Linked DNA regions of Homo sapiens: region 2 is linked to region 1. Evidence: fine-mapped expression QTL. Tissue or cell type: nucleus accumbens. Region 1 holds a variant in brackets; the other region holds the start of a gene. All regions are shown on one strand. Distances are from middle to middle.

The links. PIP is the estimated chance that this variant, and not a neighbour inherited with it, causes the effect.
Region 2: TM7SF3 starts here. The variant in region 1 is fine-mapped to the expression of TM7SF3 in nucleus accumbens (GTEx, PIP above 0.99).

Annotation. Positions count from the first base shown.
Region 1 is chr12:26,963,475-26,970,777 of GRCh38, forward strand. FGFR1OP2 (FGFR1 oncogene partner 2) reads left to right here. Exons shown (of 7, transcript NM_015633.3): 7 at 1,122-3,174. The coding sequence ends at 1,259. Among named protein-coding and RNA genes, the nearest start is that of FGFR1OP2, 29 kb to the left of the region's middle. The variant C/T (reference allele first, on the strand shown) is at 4,074.
Region 2 is chr12:27,010,346-27,018,493 of GRCh38, forward strand. It overlaps TM7SF3 (transmembrane 7 superfamily member 3), which reads right to left and starts at 4,039. Exons shown (of 12, transcript NM_016551.3): 1 at 3,733-4,039. The coding sequence starts at 3,823. RefSeq lists a silencer at 3,732-4,231.

The sequences.
Region 1 (7,303 bases):
TGTAGATGAAAACTGTCCATATAAAGATTTATGCCAGAAAATATATCCCATTTTTAAATATATATTTACTCTTCTTGGGTACTGGTAATGTTCTCCTGGATGCTGTCTATGTGGGCATATTATGCAAGACCATTTATGTGGTGATGCAAGAATCTAGGATTATTAGTAACTTACAATATACCAGTAATGTAGAAAATTGATGTTTCATTCTATATTGCTTATCTTATGAAGTGAATGTACTTCTTCAATTGAGTCATTTTTAAAATTTTGTTTATTCTATTAGAGATCATAGTGATACAGGGAAATTTTTTTTAATCCACAAATATTTAGGGGCACTCTTATTTTTCTGGGGATTCTAAAAACCTTTGTCATCTGTCCTTTATTTTATGACAGTGAAAGTACCAGTCTCTGAATAACTGAAATCAGTACAATAGACTTTTATGCCTTAAGAGCTTCATTTTGAAATCACGGCGGGGAACCTGCTTTAGACTACTAAAATTTAGAAAGTGAGACTGAAGATAAAGTGATAGAGAACAAATTATGAAAGGTTATTGTTAAATGTCTACAAATTTTTTTACAGTAACTAACCAAAAGGAGGCCAGAAAGCAAAGTTATTTACCAGTGCCAGATTTGGTCACTTACTTTCCTTCTTGAAAAATATCATCAGCTACCCCTACCCTGCTGCTCTCAAATGCCAATGAGCTAAACTTGTCCTACATTCCATGCTATCATGGAAAGTAATAAAAATACTAAAAATTACTAGGAGATTCTAGCCTATTCACTGGCTTTACGAGTTTATATAAAAATAAATCTAGATGTTATTTTCTTCATCTCTAATGTGATTGTAAAATAAGGCAATTTCTGAGCTTCTGTTTACAATTATAGCTGCTTAAGTAAGAAGGCTTTGCAGTGGTGGAAGATGTTGAACACGATTCCTAGCTGCATAAGTGTTCTTTAGATTCAAGTTGCCAACTGCATATATCATTGAGTAGATTAATGCCAATTACAGACCTTGCTTGTTTGTTATACCTTCATATGTTCAGTTTTTCCTAACATATGTTTGTGATGTTGTAGCTACCTTGTAGATAGTGACTGCATCTTTGTTTTTGCTTGCCTTTTAGCAAGAAAACAAAGGCTTGAGAGAGATCCTTCAAATAACTCGAGAATCATTTTTGAACCTAAGGAAAGATGATGCGTCGGAAAGTACTTCTTTGTCAGCATTAGTGACCAACAGTGATTTGAGTCTGAGGAAGAGCTGAAGAGTTTCTGAGTCTGTGAGCTTCTTACATGGCTCCAAATGGTCAAATAAGTGAATGAATGAATGGACAGAAAATTCAATCCTTTATTTTTTTCTCTGTAAATATGTACAGTGCACGGGCTATGAGATAGCAACAAAAAATGCATAGTTAATGGTCATAGACTTTATTCCAAAACATAATTGGAAAATAGAAACTGAGCCATTGCCAAATGGTAAAGAAATGAAAAGTTTTCACAGTGACTACTGAATATACCAAGAGCTTTTGGCAGTACTGCTGGCTTTCTGGGTGATTAATTAGGTAAACTTGAATATTCCCAGTAAATGTTTGAGAATGCATAAAATTATACCAATTTAAAAATATAAATTTTTGCCACTGTTTTGTGAACGGAGGATTTGTACGCTAAATTTCATCCTTATTTGGCGTCAAAGTTGATGCAAAGTTTATGTACCATGAGACTTCTAGTGATTGCCTACTTTCACATTTATTTAAATTTTTGTGAAAGAAAATACAGTTTTAAAGGCTATAGGAATGTGTTATATGTACCTTAAACAGATAATTTAATTTTAGCAATTTATCATAACTGATACTTAGCTAACAATTGTCCATAACTTGTTTAAGTGTAAGAAATACCATTTCAGGAATGAAAAAGAAGGAATACTACTTTCTAAGAAAGAAGATCTTATAATAGACATATTTAGTAGGTTAAACTACTCCTTTGAAAGAATAAGTTTTGGTTCAAAGTCAATAATGAAGACGAGATTTGTTTTTCTCTTCTCTGGCTGATTTTTAAGGATATTATGTAGTTCATTTAGTTAACAGAATTGAAATGTTTGATATGGCAAGATAGGTATGGTAATTTCAAAGTGAATTGGGAATTCCTCTGGCTCATAGAACCCTTTTTTTTTTCCTTTAAGTATTCTTGAGATACAAAAAAAAAAAGTAAATACAATTTCAAAAAAAAAGTTCCGGATCTGTTTTTAAGCTCCATCTGGTCCTCATAACCTGCAAGATTTTTCTTAAAACCTTTCAGCTGAAAGTGGGGGTAAAGGTGGAGTAATCTGTGGATTTGTTTCTGTTGTCTTTTAAAATGTCAAATATATAATATGTAATTTTTTTAAAAACCACCAGATACAGAAATGTGCTTTAACATCAGTTGAAACCTAAATTTTCTTATGTTGTGGTGATTGTATTAAAAAGGGATAAAAGAAGAGTGTCAAACATGGTTAAATATATTGTACTCATTTATGTTGAATACGTATTAAAATTAAGACAAATGGAAAATTATACTTTGAGTATATAATTTGTTAAATATTACTTTATATGGTAATTTTATGTATAATTTCATATATTGGTAAAATTCAAAACTACACTTGAGAATTTTTTTATCTTAAGTTTGGGGTGAATGGGGTGGATGAGACTGATTGAATAGAAAAGGGCTAATGGCCCAAACATTATATAGATTTCTTTTTTTCAGTCAGAGGCCTTATTTGATATTTTATAAATAAATGACAGTTTTTATTTTTAAACTTTTTATTGTTTTTGGGAAAGTATTCCTTAATTTAATGACACATTCATTCAGATACTTCTTATCCCTGCTAATAAAGGAAATCTATTTCAAGCTACACCATTGAGATTAAGTCTGAGGCAGTTCATTGAGGCAGCTCTACTATAAAAGCTTACTTGATAAATAATTATTTTTGTAAACAAGTTGGGTTAACTTATTCTTCGTCTTTTTGCTTGGATATGAATTTAAGGTCTTCATGTTTAAAGACATTTACTTTGTTATTTAGTGACACATTTCCATCCTATTTTTTTTTTTTTTTTGGTTGTTGTTAAACAGAACCTTAAGTTTATGTTTGAGGTATGTACTGCATAGGAACCTATTTTATTATTAAAGATGAATGATTAAAATTGGTATGGTCTCCAATTTAATTTGAAAAGTGCTTACCCTTATTCTTATATATGGTTTAATTTTAAGGTTTTTTGTCTCTTCTTAGTGCAAAACTACTTAGCAGTGACCTCTATCTGTATTCCTTAGGAATTAGCAGCTTCTTAGTGTGGATCCTGCAGAACTTCTTACCATTTGTAGTAGGTTGAATCATGTCCCCTAGAAGGTAAGTCTAAGTCCTAACTTGATACACCTGGGAAGGTGACCATATTTGGAAATAGTCTTTACAGATGTGATTAGGGGATCTCAGGATATAATTACCCTGGATTTTGGGTGGGCTCCAAACCCAGTGACTAGTGTCGTTACAATAAGAGAGGAGGAGATATGAAACACAGATATAGCAGCATGAGGACAGAGGCAATGAGTTACGCAAGGACTGCTAGCCACCACCAGAAGCTGCAAGAGAGGCATGGAATGGGTTCTTCACGGGCTCCAGAAAGGACCAAGCCTGCTTGATTTCAGACTTCTGGCCTCCAGAACTGTGAGGAAATAAATTTCTGTTGTTTTCATTCACCCAGCCTGTGGTAATTTGTTAGAGTAACCCTAGGAAACTAAGACATCTATTGTTTTTCATCTATCAACTATATTTTTATTTTATATAAGAAAGTTCTTAAAAACCAATTTATAACCTCACAATTTCTGCTCTAATTTTATATTCTTTAATATCAAGGTGACTTCTAAAATTTTATAGAAATAAATTGCTTCCCTGTAATCCCAGCACTTTGGGAGGCCGAAACAGGTGGATCAGTTGAGGTCAGGAGTTCAAGACCAGCCTAGCCAACATGGTAAACCCTGTCTCTACTAAAAATACAAAAAGTTAGCCAGGGATGGTGGTGGGTGCCTGTAATCTCAGCTACTTGGGAGGC[C/T]GAGGCAGGAGAATCGCTTGAACCTGGGAAGCAGAGGTTGCAGTGAGCCGAGATCTCACCATTGCACTCCAGCCTGGGCAATAATAGTGAAACTCCATCTCAAAAAAAAAAAAAAAATTGCTTCAATGAAAAATGGACAATCGTAGATCCATAATTTTGGTGGTCACTACCTTTTTTCATTGTCAGAGTGAAATAGGAGAACATTTTTTAGTAAAATACTGATGAAGATGATAATTTCTAATTGGAATTTGAGGAGACACTTTTTCCTTTAACCTCTCTGGCTGCTCCTCAGTCTCCTTTGTTTCTTCTCGCTGACCTCTTAACATTAGAGAGCCACTGGGCTTAGTCCTTATACCTATTCTGTGCAGTGTCTCTACTCACTGGTGATCTCACCCAGTCTCATGACTAAATACCACCTCTATGCTTGATGGCTCCTAAATTCACAGTTCCAGCATAGACCTCTCACCCCGGATTCATGCAGCTGTGACTGTCAAAGAGAAATTTTATGCTTAAGATGTCCAAAGCCAAACTCCAAACCTCCCAGAACGCCTCCATACTCTTTCCCATCCTGCTTGATGACAACTCCATCCTTGCAGTTGCTAAGGCCAAAAACCTTGGTGGCAACTTTGACTCCACTTTCTCATATCGTGCATCCTATTCATCAGCAAATCCTGTTGTTGGCTCTTCCTTCCAAATAAATCAGAATCCTACCATTTCTCTCCTCCACTGCTACCCCTGGTCAAAGCTACATTATGGTAGTGTTAAAGTATACAAATTGGATTCAACCTAAATATCCTACAGTAGGGGAATAGTTAAATGTCAATATTCACTCAATACAGTTGATTACAGTCTATGGCTTGAAGATGCTAGCAACAAGAAGAAAAAAGTACCTAAATATGCATTAAAAAGCTTAACATAAATTACCCATATAATTACAAATATGTAAAAATCAGATGCATACGGGGAAATGTCCTGAAGCAAACAGCATCAGTATTCTTCCAGCTAATTGTACTGTTTGCATTAGCCAGTCAGTTTCTGATGCCTGTAAATCAAGCATTTTTGTAGCTACCATTATGGAGTTGTAATTTATTCATCAGTTCCCCCAACTGATGGATAGTTTGCAAAGTTTAATACAAAATAATGCAGTAAACATCCATATACATAACTTTATTTATTGTAATTTCTAGCGTGCAAATTCCCAGAAGTTTGTTAGGTCATGTTTTGTTATTTTTTAAATGAAAAAATAAATGTACACTGTTAAAAATCTTAGCATACTAAAAAATTTACAATTCAGAGTAAACCTCTTCCTACAACCTCTGTCTTTCCAGAGGTCATTATAAGTTTCTTGTGAATCAGAAAACCTGTTAACCAAAAAAAGTGACTGAGGCAAGTGTCTTAAATCAGTAGAGGTTTATTGGGCCAAAGTTTAAAGACATGCCAGAGAAAAAACGCAAGCCACATGAGCATCTGTGACCTGAGCTTTCTAAAGAGGGTTTTGGAAACTCATTATTTAGGGGAGAGAGTGAGGAGGGAAAAGGGAGAGGGGTTAGGCAGTGAGGCAAATGATTACATTCTTGTGAGGCTCTGATTAACGCTCAGTAAATCTATGTTTCATATAAGATAAACTGAAAAAAGGGAGTAAAGACTCAGTTATTCATCTGTTTCAGGGTAGGCAGAAGAGTGGTTGATTTTGTCTCATCCTTATTCTGTACCTGGGAAGATAAGCTTGTTATCAGCATTGTCAGTGTGAGATTTAACAAAACTTGGTTTTAAGAGTTAAACTTAGGTTGCAGACCCAAGGTTACAATTGGCATGTGTTGGTTTTACAGCTCTCTACAATGAGAAGGGGAGGCCTTGAGGCTTCTGTTAATAATACTCCCCTTCCTACACATGACATACTTGGTTTTGGCTACTCCTACTCAACCTCCAAGTTTCAGCTGGAATGTCACTTCCTCAAGGACTCCTTCCTTGGCATCCCACTTTCTAGCCCTATCCCATTATACATTTTCATTGCATATTACACATCTTGTGTAACTATTTTAGTATCTGTCTCACACTCCAGTCCCAGACAGCAAAGACCATGCCTGTGTTTTCCATCTTCCTAGTGCTCAAGGCAATGCCTGGCCAGGAACTCAACAAATATTTAATGAGTGAATGTGAGATCTAAGTCAAAGCCTCACTATCATATATATATAATTTTTATTTTTTTGAGACAGTGTCTTGCTTTGTCGCCTAGGCTGGAGTGCAATAGTGCGATCTCAGTTCACTGCAGCCTCCGCCCCCCGGGTTCAAGTGATTCTTCCTCCTCAGCCTCCCAAGTAGCTGACAGGTATGTGCCATCATGCCCGGCTCGTTATTTTTATTTTTTAGTAGAGACGGGGTTTCACCATGTTGGCCAGGCTGGTCTTGAACTCCTGACTTCAAGTGATCTGCCCACCTTGGCCTCTCAAAGTGCTGGGATTACAGGCGTGAGCCACCACGCCACTCCTGTATAACAATTTTTTAAAAAATCTTAAGCTTGATCCAGACCTGCCAACCTCTCCAGTGTAATGATTACATGGTAGTCCCTGGGTAAGTCCAGAGTTCCCACTAACTTAAGCCCCTCTTTGTGTCAATTTCATAAAGAGTGGTCCTTGCAAATACAATGGCCAAATTGCCAAGAGGCATTTCAATCAACAGTCAGGGTAATGTGTATTCTTTTGACATAACAGAATACCACTGACTGAATGGCTTAAACAACAGAAATAATTTCTCACAGTTCTGGAGGCTGAAGTCCATGATCAAGGTGCAGCAGGGATGGTTTCCTCTGCTTGCAGATGCTCCCCTCTTACTGCTCTTCACACGGTCTTTCCCCTGTGAGCACATGCACCTGGTGTTTCTGTGTCCTAATCTCCCCTTCTTACAAAGACACTGGTCAGACTGGATTAGGACCCACCCTAATAGTCTCAATTTAATTTGAAACCTCTTTAAAGGCCCCGTCTCCAAATAAGGTCACATTCTGAGGTACCGGGTGTTAGGGCTTCAACATATAAATTTGTTTGGGGGGCACAGTTTAGTCTATCAGCAAACCATAGGTAGCTGCCCTCCCAACAAGGGCTGGGATGCAATGAGGGGCTGTGCCCTAGGGCAAGGCCCTGTTCTCAGGAAATTAGAACCAAGAACTCTGGGTTTGAATGAATGTTACTAACAGGTATTAAGTACATCACCTAGGAGTGAACTTCGGACCAAGT
Region 2 (8,148 bases), 47 kb after region 1:
GGAAGAAAGGAACTAACATGTACAGGGCATTCACAGAAATTCCAGGCACATCATAAGCATTACGTTGAGAAAGAGACTTCCGAAGAGTGACAACAAAAGATACTGAAAGTCAAGACAACTTAAACAGCTCAGTCTGGTAGAAACTCATTTAATTTCTGCTCATAAAAACAGATTTAGCAAAAGAAGACACATACTCAAAAAATATCCTGAAGAAGCTAACAGGAATTTAACTTCACCTCTAAGGCATATGGAAAAGGATTTATTAGAAGCATTTTATGAGGCATAATTATATCTTATGACTTGCAGAGTAGGAGGAAAAAAGACAGCACATCAAAAGATATTACAAAGCAAATGGCTAACATCAAGTTGGGGCACTTACATTAGCTTTCCTCTAAAAAGAAATGGCTTTTTTTGCCATCTGACCTATAGTAGGGACTTGAAACAATTTTTCACACCCATCTTCCATTCTTACCCAGAATCACTTTTTCTTTCCAATAATTCCACTTTAAAAAGAGCTGCCCAATCCTAATACTTTCCTTTTTCTTTCCGAATCAGATCCTAATCTGGCAACCATAAAAATTTCCAACTCTTCCTTTTTACTATTTTACTAAAATTTACTTCTACTGTTTGTGTTTCAACACAACAACCAAATTCTAAGAGAAATCCATCATAGCCTAGTCTTCATAATTCTCTTCACATTAAAAACAAAAATGGTTCAGCTACTTGAGTTGGTCAGCAGTCAACCGCCCCTCCCAATTTCTCATTGTTATCTTCTTACAAATGTTCAATAGCCCTAAAGGTTGAAAGGGAACACAAAAATGAACATATTAGCTTCACACACTTTTTAGAGAAAGACAGCACTTGCAACTAACCATGAACAGCCTGCTACCTTGGTAAAGCATCATCAATAGCAAGAAGACTGAAAGGCCCAAATGATGCTGTGCTCAAGTCCAATTACTATGAAATTCCACGGGAGTTACTGGATATGAATCTAAACAAATGAAAGATGTTAAAGGCAGCAGTGAACTGGGACTCCAAGAGAAGGGAAAACTGCTTAAAAGTATGATCCATCTCATGTGCCTACTGGTCACAGAAAGCACCCTCCTCAGACATTCTAGGAACTCCATCTGCCACGTTCCAAGATTTATTTAGCATTCAGGCCACTACAGAAGTCATGCAAGTTAGCTCATCCTGCCAAAGATGGGTAAATCCTCCTAAATTACAGCAGATGCTCAATTTCTTCAGTTTGTATGGTTATCAGAATTATCATCATCAAACATCAATCCAGCCATTTTCTAGGAGGATTATGCAAGTCCTGAACTATGTCCTTCTACCTTTCTATACTGATTTTTAGCTGATAGATGTGGAGAATATCAGCTTTTATTATCACTCAGCAGTTAAGTCCCCACATTGTCCCTCTTCTGCACAGAATGACAATACCAATGCAAGGCAAAAAGAATAACATTGAGGAATATCAGTGCTATAATCATAGCAAAGAGGCAAAAAGCAGTGTCTGAAAAAAATTAATTTCTCAATTTATTCATATTTTTTAACTTTTGTATAAAAATTTCTAGGTATTAAATACTAACACCAAGTAGAAAGAAAAAGTTCTGGACGCCTGCTCTCCTGACTCAGGGGCTGGCCTCGATCAACTAAAAACTCTAATATCTCAAATTCTTCACCTGTTAAAATAGAGATAGCATCTCTTCTACCTCCATCATAAGGCTATTTTGAAGAATGAGGATTCACAGAAGGATTAAGTACAAAGCACCATGCCATGTAAGATATTCTTATTGGAAGACAGCTTTACGGAAGTGGAAGGACTATGAAATTTGCAGGGAGACTCACCTGGGTTCAAGTCCTATCTGTAACCCTAGCAGCTGTTCATTTGTTCCTCTGACAAGGGAGGAAGATCATTACATTGTAGGGTGGTGGGGATTAAATAACACTGCACGTGGAAAGCACCTGGCACACACTATACAGAGTGAATGTTAGTGCCCTATTATAAGCAAGGTTTTTCTGCAAAAAAAAAAGTTGCCCTTTTCAGCTTTGGCCTCAGTCCTATATACAAAGATCCTAGAATTCAGTTTGCACAAGGGCTTTTCAAAGATAAGTGCATAGCAACACAATCACATTATTCAGAAAATATTATGTTTCAGAACTGCAACTAGTCTATTAACCTCAAAACAAAACAGAATGTGCTTAGTTTCATGGAAAAGCACATGATGATCTGCCTGGCACAACTAGTGCCTTTTACATTTTATATTAACAAACCATGAGCTGTTGCCCAAACCCATTCACCAAGCACAAGACTTACAATCTAACATCCCATTCTGAGTTCTCACTGAGATGAACAAGAATTACCTGAAATCGGCCGGGCGCGGTGGCTCATGCCTGTAATCCCAGCACTCTGGGAGGCCAAGGCGGGCAGATCACGAGGTCAGGAGTTCGAGACCAGCCTGAACAACATGGTGAAACCCCGCCTGTACTAAAAATACAAAAACTAGCTGGGTGTGGTGGCGGGCGCCTGTAATCCCAGCTACTCTGGAGGCTGAGGCAGGAGAATTGCTTGAACCCGGGTGTCGGAGGTTGCAGTCAGCCAAGATCATGCCACTGCACTCCAGCCTAGGCGACAGAGCGAGACTCCGTCAAAAAAAAAAAAAAAAAAAGTCACCTGAAATCATCAAAAATGGTGTACTCATAGGGAGCCAAGCCCGGGCATGTTGCTTCTTGGCTCCCACAGGTGAATTTGAAGTGGCAATAGAACTTCGTTGATTCTTGTTTTTCTCATTTTAGTTTTACTCTCTATTAAATTGTTATTTTTTACAGTTCATTTATGGATGACAAGTTATTTCCTGTTGGTAGCTGCAATGATTGGGAATTTTGTGATCTCTGTAAACGAATTAATATCTCATAGAGATCTATTTCCTGTTGGATATGAGACAACAGAGAACACAGTTTTTGTCCATTTGTCTTTTTTAAGGTCAAATCGATTAGAAATTTCTTGCCCTCAAGTAAGGAGAACAACTCTGATACCTGGACTGGCAAGCTTTTGTGTTTCTGTGTTTATTTTTCATTTGTGGCTGAACTTGTAGAATTGAGGGTATACACATTCTATCTGTATGTCTATGTATCTGTAATTCAGAAAGTCCTTTATTTCTCATTGTGAGTATGGAATGTTTTCCTGTCTCCAGATGGTATTAATAAATTAGATGGTAAAGGCTCTTTAAAAATAAAGCCTCATTATGGGTTCATTTTCCCTCTCAAACTCTGTAGAACATAACCAGTTTGAAAAGCCTCTAGATTTGGGGGTGTAAAAATTCCATGCAGCTTGAGAGCCATCAGTCATTAAGCCGCTAGTTCCACCCCAAGTCTTGCTGTCCAGAAGCTCAGACAGTCCACTGGGCAGCAAAGAGGCGCTTTAGTAAGTTGAATTAAAGCCACAAACATGGCTGCTCCCTAAGGGAGATAATACTGTGTTAAAAAAAGAGAATTATTTATCTCTTCCCATTTCCTCCGCTAAATGAGGAGGTTAATAGTAAGACCTCCTTAGCCATGAGTGTTTCCGCTGCAGGAAACACCATTCGTGCCGGTTCTGGACTCACCACCCAGCGTGTACCAACGCCCCCAGCACCATCTCCCTGCTAGGCTGACAGACCCCTGGCGGATTTTGACCTCGCAAGAAATGCAAAAGCAACTTTGGGTTGCAGAAGCCAGGCGCCCCGACCTTACCCTCGCTGGAATTCCCGAAGACCTCGGCTGCACCAGCCACCCGGTGTTCGGATGCCAGCACCGCTACGACCAGCAGCTGCAGGAACCCCATTGCTGCCTGGGCCGGGCTGGGCCCACGCCAGGGCTGGGGAGAGGTGCGGGCGTGCGCGCCGGGGCCCCGCAGCCTCGCCCACGCTATCCCGGGGCGCCCGCATCGGGCGCCATCGCCCGCCAGGTGCAGACGCTTCGCACCTGCCAGCTCCGCAGCCGCCGGCGCGCGCCCCGCCGAACTCCTAGCCCCAGCGAGAGGTTTCCTCTTCCGGCACCTGACCCCCAACGCGCGTTCCCGCGCCTCCTCCCGGGCTCTCGCTGCGTCACAGCGGCGGGTCTCTGGGCGCGGGCGGCGCTGGGGCGTTTCCAGGCAGCGCGCGCCTCCTGCCGGCGCGCGGGGAACGCGCAGCCTGCGGTGCTCCCGGGAGCCCCCAGGAAGTCCTGGCTTGAGGCCCGGTCTTGCCCCACTTTTATCTCACCAAGTAGGCAAACCCACTGTGAAAGTACAAAATAACTTTCTGTTGCGGACTAACGTCGCCAGGCTCCTGTTTCCGTGTTTAACGGCCCTTTACAACAGCAAAAAAGAGGAATCAGTTGCTAAAAACACAATTGAAGGTTATTTCCCCCGGTAGCAATTGTCTTCGCTGCTGAGGCTTATGTTAGCATAAAAATGCCAGGAGAATGCTGTTTGTGTAGTGGTTACCGCACTAGTCATAAGCACTACATTTAAAAGTAGTTTCGTTTTCTCTAAGCGAAATATCCTCGAAGACACGGCCTTGGTCTGAACTTCGTCTCAAGTCTCATACCTGAGTGCTGTTTGAGGGACAGTAGTCCATGTGACAGATGGCTCATCGATGATGTGGAATTAGACGCATAGACTTAACGTTATTTGGGGAGGATTGTCTTGCTTTCCTTCCCTGGTTTTAATTTTTTTCACTTATATATTTTGATGAGCAACTTATAGCTTGGAAATTACATGTTCAGTTAGTCCACTACTAAGCTAACAATATATAGCTGTGACCATAATGTGAAGAAGTGTTAAAGACAAAATTATTCAATGATACTTGTTAAAGCACCGAACGAAGACTATTGAGGACTGTCTCAATTGGCATAGGGACCACTGCAACTGGGTCTTGCAGTGGGGAAGAGGGACTGGGCTCAACTCCGAATACAGCGTGGGCAAGAGGGAATTTATAGCCAACCAGCAGTATGGAGTTCAGTGGATGGAAAATTACTAAGAGGAAGCATCAGAGGTAAGGGGCATTTGGTGAAACTGACCTAACAGGACTTCTGAAGACATAACATCACCTGGGGGATGGTGCAGGGTGAGAAAACTGATTAGATATGGAGGAAAGGGGGTTCTTTGCTAAAACTGGATTTTTACAAAGAAGTGCACAGATGGACCTAGCAGAAGATTCAGAAGCCGTACTAGAGTTTGGCCAAGCAAATAATCTTTGTCATAGGCACAATTCTTTCTCTGCTTTCCCACTGCCTGGTCCAAATTTTCACACCTTTGGTAGCACTATCTATTTCTGTAGTGCTTATTCACTCTCCCACATGCCCCTATTCCTATAACCCTCAGTAGATGAAATCCAAGGAAGATGAAAGGGACAATTATGATAAGGGTAGCATCTGAATCAGTGGATGGATTATTCAATAAATTGTGTTCTTAACTGATTAGCTGCACTATGGGCAGAGAGAAGCAGAACTCTATCTCACACTAATTGTGAAAACAAAATCCCAAAGTAATAAAACCATAAAAGAGCTAGCAGAAGAGGGCGCTCTTTTTTTTTTTTAATAAATTGATCTCAAAATGGGAGGAGCTTTCTAAGAAGCAAAACAGCAAAGGAAACAACCATAAAGGAAAAGATTGGTAGACTTGGCTACGTAAATGCTTTTTACATAAATATTTAAATTTTATTAAAGTAAACACACAAACAATATGAAAAGGCAAGTTGACCAAAAAAAAAAAATTAGCAAAGGACATGAATGGGGAATTTCACCCCAAAAAAGAAATACAAATTACCAGTAAATACATGAAAAAAGTTCAATCTCACTAGTAAACAAATAAAAAAATCAAATTAACAAACTAAGATGTAAACATTTTAAAAGTATAAAACATCCAGTGTGGATAAAAGAGCTAAGAAGGAGGCATTCTTAGGTAGGGATACTGGGAATATACACTTTAATAAAGTAATCGGCATCAAAAATGTTTAAAAATCTTATTTTTGTAGATTTGGTATAATCCACTTTTAGATTTAAGTACATAATTAAATACACATATAAAAATTAGTATAAGCTGGGGGAAGTGGTATGCGCCTGTAGTCCCAGATACTCAGGGGGCTGAGGCAGGAGGATTACTTGAGCCCAGGAGTTCAAGAGGGCAGTGCTGTATGATTGCACCTGTGAATAGCCACTGCCCTCCAGCCTGGGCAACATAGTGAGACCCCATCTCTTAAAAAAAAATAGTGTACAGAACTATTCATAGAGTATTATTTAGAGTAGCAGAAACATCTAAAACAACCTAAATGCCCAACAATTAGGAGTTAAATAACCTATGATAGAGCTTTATAAGAGGATCCTGTGCAGCCCTTCATTTATATTCTGATTGAAGTCTTTATGAAAAGGCAAGTTATGATGCAATAAGTATATATAGTACGTGGCTTTTTTTTTTTTTTAACATACATCTTTTATTGACTCAGAGGAATGGATACTTTTGTTGTTTGTTTGTTTTTTTAAATGGAGTCTTGTTCTGTCCCCCAGGCTAGAGTGCAGTGGTGCAATCTTGGCTCACTGCAACCTCTGCCTCCCGGGTTCAAGCAATTCTCCTGCCTCCGCCTCCCAAGTAGCTGGGATTACAGGCACACACCACCATGCCCGGCTAATTTTTGTATTTTTTTTTAGTAGAGATGGGGTTTCACCACGTTGGCCAGGCTGGTTTGGAAATCCTGACCTTGTGATCTGCCCACCTCGGCCTCCTGAAGTGCTGGGATTACAGGCGTGAGCCACCACACCCGGCCTGTAATTTTTTTTTAAGAGACAAGATCTCACTATGTTACCCAGGCTGGCCTTAAACTCCCAGATGTAAGAATTAAAGAAGAAAGAAACAGGAAAGGTGGCTTAGAAGTCAAGGACAAGTTTATTTTAGAGAAAACAAACCTGAAAGGGGCTTCTGGCCAGTTAGGTTAGAGGCACACTCTCTTACGGACTAATAAGAGTTTTTAAGGATTTAGGGTGGGAGAGTTTATCAGAGGCTTGGACTGCTTCTGTGTCTGTTGTGCTTATCTGGGAGGGAGAGTTGTGTGTCTGTTCCCATACATCTTTTTGCAGCTGCAGGCATACCCCCGAGTCTGCTTTTAGCTTCCCTATCTTAGTGCACCTGAAGGGAAAGGAATGTACTTACTAAGGCCCACTGTTTTACTGGGGCCCATTGTATGAGGGTGAAGTTTGGCAGTTACCCAAGAGAATTTCCCCCCACCTCCCTTTGTGCCTGAGCTGTCTTATCTGTGTTTTACTGTCTGCTCTTTCTGGCTGCTTATAGTTAGAAGAGAAGTGATTTCCTTGAAATGCATGAGGCTAGAAAGGGAGCTGGAACTTAAAGTGGCGGTGTTTGTCCGAGATGACGGTGCTCCTGGTCTGTCACCAGACTCAAGCAATCCTGCCACCTCAGCCTCCAGACTAACTGGGACTACTACAGGCTCACACCACTGTGCCTGCCTTGTTTTCTTTGTAGTATGCATTCCTGGTTATGTACATAGAAAAAAAGGTTGAAAAATATATGCCAAAATGTTTAAAATAGTTATCTTTAGGTGGTTAAATTAAGAATGATTTCCTTTGCACATTTCTGTGTAAAAGTTCTACATTGAAGTGTATCATTTTTAAATAAGAAATTATGATTTTGTAAAAGATACATATAATTTTAAAGGTTTTCTTATAAAAGCATTCAAGATATAAGTCCACCTTCCTGAGTATGACACATAAATGCTTTTTGTGATGCAACTCCTGCTCACCTCCCTAGGTTCTTGCTGCAACTAAAATCAGACCTCTACATGCTGGCCACATTGAATTAATTTCAATTTCCTGAACTGAGCCTATTCTCTCTCCTCCATACCTTTGCATCGCAGTTCCCCAGGCCTGCAGTTGCCTGTGCATGCATGACAGTTGATGACAAATGTGTCAGCAATCAGAACAGGGCCTCATTACCTTGGCTTCTAAGTACAGTATTGTGACAGCTTGGGAGGATGATTGGCTGGGGTTCCATGCTCATGTCAGAGTTCCATTGGAGAGCTGAGAAGCAAACAAGCTTAGCAGCTTTGCAGATTAGTTCATTTTTCCTATGTATTGAAAGGAAATGCAGAAACTGAAAGATTCCCAAATCCAAGATAT